2 separate regions of the Homo sapiens genome follow, and region 1 is linked to region 2. Evidence: fine-mapped expression QTL. A gene starts in region 2. The other region holds a variant in brackets. All regions are shown on one strand. Distances are between the middles of the regions. Region 1 overlaps YLPM1 (YLP motif containing 1). Region 2 holds the start of AREL1 (apoptosis resistant E3 ubiquitin protein ligase 1).

What was found. PIP is the estimated chance that this variant, and not a neighbour inherited with it, causes the effect. A credible set is the group of variants that fine-mapping cannot tell apart.
Region 1: its variant is the best candidate, but not a certain one, in a credible set for the expression of AREL1 in whole blood (TOPMed, PIP 0.71).

Annotation. Positions count from the first base shown.
Region 1 is chr14:74,770,171-74,774,567 of GRCh38, reverse strand. The region is part of intron 1 of YLPM1 (YLP motif containing 1); the gene reads right to left. Among named protein-coding and RNA genes, the nearest start is that of YLPM1, 9.1 kb to the right of the region's middle. The variant C/A (reference allele first, on the strand shown) is at 2,042.
Region 2 is chr14:74,710,752-74,715,148 of GRCh38, reverse strand. AREL1 (apoptosis resistant E3 ubiquitin protein ligase 1) reads left to right here and starts at 2,069. Exons shown (of 20, transcript NM_001039479.2): 1 at 2,069-2,216. It overlaps FCF1 (FCF1 rRNA-processing protein), which reads right to left and starts at 2,005. Exons shown (of 8, transcript NM_015962.5): 1 at 1,949-2,005; 2 at 1,597-1,664; 3 at 206-277. The coding sequence starts at 1,951. RefSeq lists an enhancer at 1,892-2,171.

The sequences.
Region 1 (4,397 bases), 59 kb before region 2:
CTGGCATGGTGGCAGGCACCTGTAGTCCCAGCTACTTGGGAGGCTGAGGCAGGAGAATGGCATGAACCCAGGAGGCGGAGGTTGCAGTGAGCCGAGATCACGCCACTGCACTCCAGCCTGGGCGACAGAGCGAGACTCCGTCTCAAAACAAAAAAAATACAAAAAAATTAGCTGGGCCATGGTCGCAGGTGCCTGTAATCCCAGCTACTTGGGAGGCTGAGACGGGAGACTCGCTTGAACCCAGGAGGTGGAGGTTGCAGTGAGCCAAGATCGCACCACTCACTGACTCCATCTCAAAGAAAACAAAACAAAACAAGAAAAAAACCAATACTCTACTGTGTACTGTGTGGCCAGATGACTTTGCCTAATGTAAACTTTCTGAGCACATTTAATAGCTAGGCTAAACTATGGTATTCAGTAGGCTAGGTGTATTAAATGTTCAACTTACATTATCCTCAACTTACAATGGGTTTATTGAGATGTAACCCCACTGTAAGTCAAAGAGTATCTGTACTTTTACTATTCAACGTAAGAAAACAGCACACTTGGCCAGGCACAGTGGCTCATGCCTGTAATCCCAGTACTTTGGGAGGTCTAGGCGGGCAGGTCACCTGAGGTCAGGAGTTCGAGACCAGCCTGGCCAACACGGTGAAACCTCGCCTCTACTAAAAATACAAAAATTAGTAGGGTGTGGTGGCACACACCTATAATCTCAGCTACTCCGGAGGGTGAGGCAGGAGAATCCCCTGAACCTGGGAGGCGGAGGTTGCAGTGAGCCGAGATCGTGCCATTGCACTCCAGCCTGGGCAACAGAGAAAGACTCTGTCTCAAAAAAAAAAAAAAAAAAAAAAAAAAAGAAAGAAAACAGCACACTGACCATGAAAGCCAAAGCCAATAATAATAATAATGTAGCATTAAAACACTTCCTTCCATTATTTTAATACTGAAAACATCAACAGACTTATCCTTCAGTTTTAAAAAAATTAGTACATTCTCTTTCAAGTAGAAGTTAAAAGTTTCCTTTTTTAAAGTTGCTTTGAAAGCATTATTAAAAGATACAAAGATGCAAACTATCTTTCACAAACTAAGCCAATGCTACAGATATGAAGACTGTACAGAATGAAAACTGTACAGGTCCAGATTCTTTATCAGCTTCTTCATCACCTATTCTCATGCTTTGTCTTAGATCCAGACCAGGGTTAAGAACTTGTTAAGGGCTGAAGTACTTGTTGATTCACTGACAGTATGCCTTGTAGGTCAATTTCTCTTTTTTTTTTCTTGAGATGGAGTCTCGCTCTGTCGCCCAGGCTGGAGCGCAGTGGCGCGATCTCGGCTCACTGCAAGCTCCGCCTCCCGAGTTCACGCCATTCTCCTGCCTCAGCCTCCTGAGTAGTTGGGACTACAGGCGCCCGCCACCACGCCCGGCTAATTTTTTATATTTTTTAGTAGAGACGGGGTTTCACCATGTTAGCCAGGATGGTCTCGATCTCCTGACCTTGTGATCCGCCCACCTCAGCCTCCCAAAGTGCTGGGATTACAGGCGTGAGCCACCGTGCCCGGCCGCCTTGTAGGTCAATTTCTATTTAATATGAACCCTATAAGTAGTAACCAGATCTAATTCAATCCTATGGTAGGCTTCAGCACATTTTTGAAGCTCTGCAAATAAATAATAATGATATCACTCACAAATGTCCTTACTGACCCTAAGAGAAGTGTGATCATCCCTATTTTAGAAAGAAAAAAAATGCCTGAACTTGCTAATGATGCCAGCTCTTCTGAATGTCCCATCATATCAGATAACTCCATTTCATATGGGATGTTGTTTTATAGGTAGAGGGAAATCATAATATAGGTCACATTTAAAACGAGATTGAATGAAGGGATTTCAAACATAAAGAATGTAGAACTATTGGCTGGGTGCGGTGGCTCACATCTGTAATCCCAGCACTTTGGGAGGCCAAGGCGGGCGGATCACAAGGTGAGGAGTTCGAGACCAGCCTGACCAACATGGTGAAACCCTGTCTCTACTAAAAATACAAAA[C/A]TTAGCTGGGTGTGGTGGCACATGCCTGTAATCCCAGCTACTCGGGAGGCTGAGGCAGGAGAATCGCTTGAACCTGGGAGGCGGAGGTTGCAGTGAGCCCAGATCCTCGCGCCACTGCACTTCAGCCTGGGTGAGAGCGAGACTCCATCTCAAAAAAAAAAAAAAAATTAAGAATATAGAACTATTTGTCACAAATACTGTTATTAAGAAAGATGCTGCCGAGGCACGAATATCGCTTGAGCCCAGGAATTCAGACCAGCCTGGGCAACATGGCAAGATCCCATCTCTCTGAGAAAAAAAAAAAAAAAAGAAAGATGTTGATTTTAATTTACTCAGGAAGCACTTACTGACCACTGCTGCTAGTAATGAACTAGATACTAAATGATTTTCCAAGTGGAGAACTATAAAGGAGGTGAGTGTTTGTGTGTAATGTTTTAAAGATTAATTTTAGAAGATTACCTTCCCTATCCAGGTTATCATAAATGCCTATAAGACAATGTTCTATGTCTTATATTCTAAAGCAGGGGGCAGGGAGGACACCTGGTAAAATAATGAATTGGGTTTCCATTTTAGAAATTTATTTAAAATAGGCTTAAATATTTTTGAGATTCACATTCTACTGTAAGAATCAGGGTCACCAGATAAGCTTAGTCCCCACCTATTTTTATTTTAAATGCTCATTTACTTCATCTATTCCTCCAGCTCCTTCCCTCATTCTCTCTCTCCTTCAGTCAAACTTCTTGAAAGAGTTGTCTGTACTCACCATCCCCATTTCCTCACCTTCCATCACTCCTCAAATCAATGCAATATGGCTTCAGTCACTATGAAACTGCTCCTGCCAAGGTCAACAATAATCTACATGTCAGTAGGTGCAAAAGATAACTCGCAGTCTTTATCTTGCTTGACGTCTCAGCAGTACTTCACACAGCTGACGACTCCCTCCTCCTAGAGTCTGTTCCTTGACGTTCATGGCAACGCACTATCCACTATCTTGATTTTCCACCTATCACACTGGTGCCAAAGTAACTGTGGTTTTGCCATTAAAAGTAATAGCAAAAACTGCAATTACTTTTGCACCAACCTAATATGAATACCTATTTGGCCATTCTTTCATTGGTTCCCTTAGATACTGCTATTTGTGGAGCTAGGCTTAATGTCCTTTAACCTCAGTTCTTACTCTACACACATTCCTTGAGAGGCTTCATCTATTTCTGTGTCTTCAAATACCATTTTTATGCTGATGACTTATAAATCTATGTCTCCCAGATCTTACATCTAGACTCCAGAGCTATATCTAACTTCCAAGTGGACATCTCCATTTGGAATCTATGTCTCAAGAACCCCAAACTCAGTATGTCTGAAACCTAACTCATGATTTTCTCCTCACCCCCAGAAATGTTCTTCCTCCTCCTCCTTTAGGTTTTTCTGTTTTAGTAAATTTGACCACCATCCACCCTACGGCCCAGCCCAGAAACCTAAGAATCATTCTTGATGCCTCCCTCTCCATAACTACTCAACCTCAAAGTGAATTCTAGCAGCTAAATATTTCTCCACTCTTCCCACTTCTCTCCATCTCAACTAATACCATCAAAGTCTAAACCACTATTATCTCTTGCCTGGATTACTTCAATAACTATTCTCTCTAAATCACTCTTGCTCCTTTTAATTCTGCTCTCCACACTGCAAGCAGAGTGAGCTTTCAAAAATGCCAATCTGTCACATTCACCTATGTAAAATCCTTCAATGGCTTCCAACTGCCCTTAGAATGAAGTCCTTACAGGCCTTCCCTGATCTAGTTCATACCTACCATCCTCACCCTGAGCTTTCAGTGAGCCTTATTGAACTTAATTCTTTGAATTCTAACTTCTGGTTAATTTCTACTCTTTTTCTTTTTTTTTAACTGAGATGGAGTCCCACTCTGTCGCCCAGGCTAGAGAGCAGTGGGGCAATCTTGGCTCACTGCAACCTCTGCCTCCTGGGTTCAAGTGATCCTCCCACCTCAGCCTCCCAAGTAGCTGAGATTAAAAGCGTGCACCACCACACCCAGCTAATTTTTTGTATTTGTAGTAGAGACAGAATTTCACCATGTTGGCCAGGCTGGTCTTGAACTCCTGACTTCAAGTGATCCGCCTGCCTTGGCCTCCCAAAGTGCTGAGATTACAGGCATCAGCCACTGCACCTGGCCTACTCATTTTTTTTTTTTTTAGGTCTCACTCTGTTGCCCAGGCTAGAGTGCAGTGGCACGAGAACTCCTGGGCTTAAACAATCCTCCCACCTCAGCCACCCGCAAGTAGCCGGCACTACAGGCATGCAACACCATGCCTGGCTAGGTTTTTTTTTTTTTTGAGTCGGAGTC
Region 2 (4,397 bases):
AGGATTTTAGGGGAAATTTTACTGCTCCATAAAATCCCAAAACCTTCAAACCACTAGAATTGATATATGCTCATCGATATGACTTTCATCTACATAGTTGTGCTAGACTTACTAACAAATAAGTTAGCAAACCAGCTCAGGGAAAGCCTGGATTTCTAAGAGGTCTATGGTTTTAAAGGAAAACTTCAAACGTTTGATTACTCACACTTCTCTTTCCTTTAATGCGCTGGGATCCTTCTTTTCTTTCTTTTTAGGTTTTAATCTATCCTTTTCTTTACTAGGAAGAAAAAGGTAAATTAAATCCAAGGGAGAAGAAAAACCACAGCAATTAAAATCTCAAAAATCTAAAGTTCCATTTTTTTTTTTTTTTGGTCTACTGAAGAAATCCTACTTTGTGATATCCTCATGTTAATATCAGCATACTCTTTCTGAGCAAATAACTCTAGTGCAAAGCACAGTACCTGGAAGTATCAGAATTAACCAGTAATGCCAATAATGCATAAGAATTGTTAATGAGTAAATAAAAGCTGATTATACTATATTTATTTTTTAGTCAGAATCTCTCACATCAAGGATCACAATCCACTTCCAAGCAATGGGTAAAAGGGTGACAGTTATCTTCTGAAGATTCAGATGCTTTAACTTTTGGGGGAAAAGTATTACCCCATATGCTTCTTATAAAGGGCTAAAATGTAAAAACGCATATACAGAACTTAACCCTTAACTAGAAAGAAATTATTATTAATGGAGTGTCATTCCTAAAAATTACACAATACATCCACACTAAAGGCTGAGAATAATAATTCTGAAGGTTTTAACGACTATTCTCTTATTCTGAGACTCTTTTTTGTATTTTTAGTGGAGACAGGGTTTCACCGTGTTGGCCAGGCTGGTTTTGAACTCCTCACCTCAGGTGATCCACCCGCCTCAGCCTCCCAAAGTGCTGGGATTACAGGCGTGAGCCACTGCGCCCGGCTTTCTGAGACTCTTAAACTCAGTGAAGATCAGTCTTTATTTAATAGCTATGCTTATTCTACACTTAAGCAGGGACACCGCTTTGATCCTCTTCATACTAGGGAATTTCACTTCACTTTCTTCTTCCACAGTGATTTGGATTCTTATATTAGTAAGACTTATAAAATGGAGATATCTTGGAGTTTTCCCATTTTCTCTGACAAAAATATTTGAGTACCAGGCACTGGAAACGCCAGACAAACAAGGTCTCTAACCTTGCCATCTTTCAACAAGAAACACTCCCCTCGCCCCACCCCAGGGGAATGTAGTAGTGTAATGGTAAAAACATAAAGAGAACTATACGGACTTCACCGAACTGACATGAGGTTTAAATGCGATATGGCAGACAAAGCATATAACGGTAGAAAAAGTGAACACTTAAGAAATGTTTAATTCCCATCGCCTTTCCCAGTGTGATCGCTCAGCAGCTAAATTACTGTTAAACACTGGCTATCTCATGCTATATAAATCTAAGACACGATAATAAGCAAAAAACAAAATAATAACAACAAACATTTTTACTACTTATCCTCTCTAGACTCTTATTAGAATATCCCTGGGCAGTTGATTCCAGACACTCACAGCCTCTGATCTCTGAGACTAAGCATTCGCTTCATGGTCGCATACTTCCTTGTTTTCTTTTGCTTCCCCTTGAAACAGAAATTTTAGAATTAAAAAAGTTGGAAACACACGGCATCTTTTAAAGTCTCTTCTTTTCTCTTGTCTATTGCCTTCCCTTCTTGCCTCAAATAACCCAGACCCTCTTCCCCACTCTGTAAAGCATAACAGTCACCGCTTGGAGAAGTTTAAGAGCTAAGACCAGAATGAAAATATGCTAGGATAATGTGAAGGAAATTTGGCCACGGTCTGACTACCTCCTTCTCCACCCAAAAAGTGGCCTGATAACGTCCCTTCTTGGACCGTCTTCTCTCACCATGGTCACGCCAAACTCCTGGTTCTTCCGTAATCACCAACGGCGCAATACTTCTACGTCATTCACATACTGCTTCCGGCAAAGGATAGCCCGGAAGCGGAAACTCCTTGGGGAAAGGGCAATCCCCCGAGCCGGTTCCCAGGCCGGGTGGAGACCAACTCTGGGGTCTGTTGGTGGGAGAGTGGGGAGCCCGTCTTCTGCTGAGTGCTGCCGCCCCTTCCCAGGACAGCGGAGGTGGAACTTCGTCGCGCTGCAACCCCCGGCTCGGGTAACGTTTCTCTCCAGCCTTAGGCAGAGCCCAGAAGACCTGCCTTTACCAGAGTTCCAGAGAGAGAGGGAGGAAAAGGGTAGGGGGGTTCAGACTCCTGGTTTGCCCAGTAGTTTGGGGGAACACATTCTCCTCACCCTGTAGCGTTGGGGTATCCGGTGTCTATGGTCCAGCCCTGAGGCTGTGGTTCCTATTTGGTTTTCCTAGCCGATATGGTGCTTTGTGCAGCTAGGTGGATGATTGTTCTCGAGTATATACCGTGTACTCCTCTCGGTGAAGAGAGAAATGAAGCAGTGTTTGAGGGCCTAGACTATCGCTAGAGAATTGGGGCATAAGCTTGCATATGTTACTACTTACCCAAGCCAAGAAAATGGTGAGATACAATGCACATTTATTGTGAAGCCTTGGTGTGTCATCTTTAAGTAAAAAGGGAGAATTTGTGAGAACAAGGAGCGAAAGGTAGCTTTTTTCTTTGAGTACCTGCTATGTATTCCAGTGGTTCTTAACTTTTTGGAGATAACTTATTTCTTGAAAGTTTGTGGAAAGCCAGGAACAATTCTTTAAAAAATGGGCACACATACAGTTTGTAATACACTTAATGAGATTGGTGGACTCTGAAGCCCATCCGTGGACCCTCTGGGTGTCTGTAAACTTTAAATGAAAACCCCCATCCTGTATACTGTACTTGTCACTTTATTCATATTACCTTCTTTGACCTTCTCAATAACATAAATTCTTTTATTTTACATATGGGGAAATTGAGCCCCAGACTTTGTTCAGGGGTCTGTTTGAGTCTCGTGATTCCAAAGTCTGTACTTGTATTTCTTTTTTTCTTTTTCTTTCTTTCTTTCTTTCTTTTTTTTTCTTTTTTTTTTTTTTTTTTTTTTTTTTTTTGCACTTTGTCTTCCATTCTCCAGCTACTGATCAAGCTGGGAACGGAATGGGTACCTCTGTCATACTTTTCTTATTGCATGATGCTATCCTAGAGTTGGAAGTAAAATATGTTATCAGGTTTAAAAAAGAAGGTGACCATTGTATAACCCTTATGATGAAAACACGTTTATTGTTTAACACGAACTTTGGAGTCTGACTGATGGGGTTAAAATCCTTGCTCTGCCTTATAACTCGCCATGACATTGGGTGAGTTAATCTATCTGCATCTCAGTTTCTTTATCTGTAAAATGGAGATAATCATAGTAGCACTCTTTTATTGGGATGTTATCAGGACTTATGTTTATTCATAGTTAACATGCGAGGTCCCTAGAAGAGTGTAAACCAGACTACTCAGAGTGTTTTCTGTTGTTACCATTGTGTGTCTTCCAACTTGAGGATGTGTGGCAGGGTTGGAATTTTATGCCAATTTTATTTTATTTTATTTTATTTTATTTTTGAGACAGAGCCTCCCTCTGCTGCCCAGGTTGGAGTGCAGTGGCGCAATCTCGGCTCACAGCAACCTCCCCCTCCCAGGTTCAAGCAATTCTCCTGCCTCAGCCTCCCGAGTAGCTGGGACTGCAGGCATGTGTGTGCCACCATACCTTGCTAATTTTTGTATTTTTAATAGAGATGGGTTTCACCATGTTGGCAAGGCTGGTCTCAAACTCCTGACCTCAGGTGATCTGCCCACCTCGGCCTCCCAAAGTTCTGGGATTACAGACGTGAGCCACTGTGCCAAGCCCCAATTTTTTTTTTTTTTTTTTGAGACGGAGTTAGTTTCGCTCTTGTTACCCAGGCTGGAGTGCAATGGCGCAATCTCGGCTCACTGCAACCTCCACCTCCCAGGTTTAAGCGATTCTCCTGCCTCAGCCTCCTGAGTAGCTGGGATTACAGGCGTGCGCCAACACGCCTGGCTGATTTTATATTTTTAGTAGAGACGGGGTTTCTCCATGTTGGTCAGACTGGTCTTGAACTCCCGACCTCAGGTGATCCGCCCACCTTGGCCTCCCAAAGTGCTGGGATTACAGGCGTGAGCCACCGTGCCTGGCACCAGCCCAATTTTATTTTAACATAGTTGCACTGGAACTTGAACGTGTTCATAAACCTCAAAACATTAAGTTTTCAGGTCCTGGGATGCTCAATCGCAGGGTGATTTCTTCTGTTGATTTGGGTGTAAACTTTTTCTGCTTCTCCTTTCTCTTTCAGGCACACATTCATTTAGATGGCTTAATAGTTTACATATCTGTG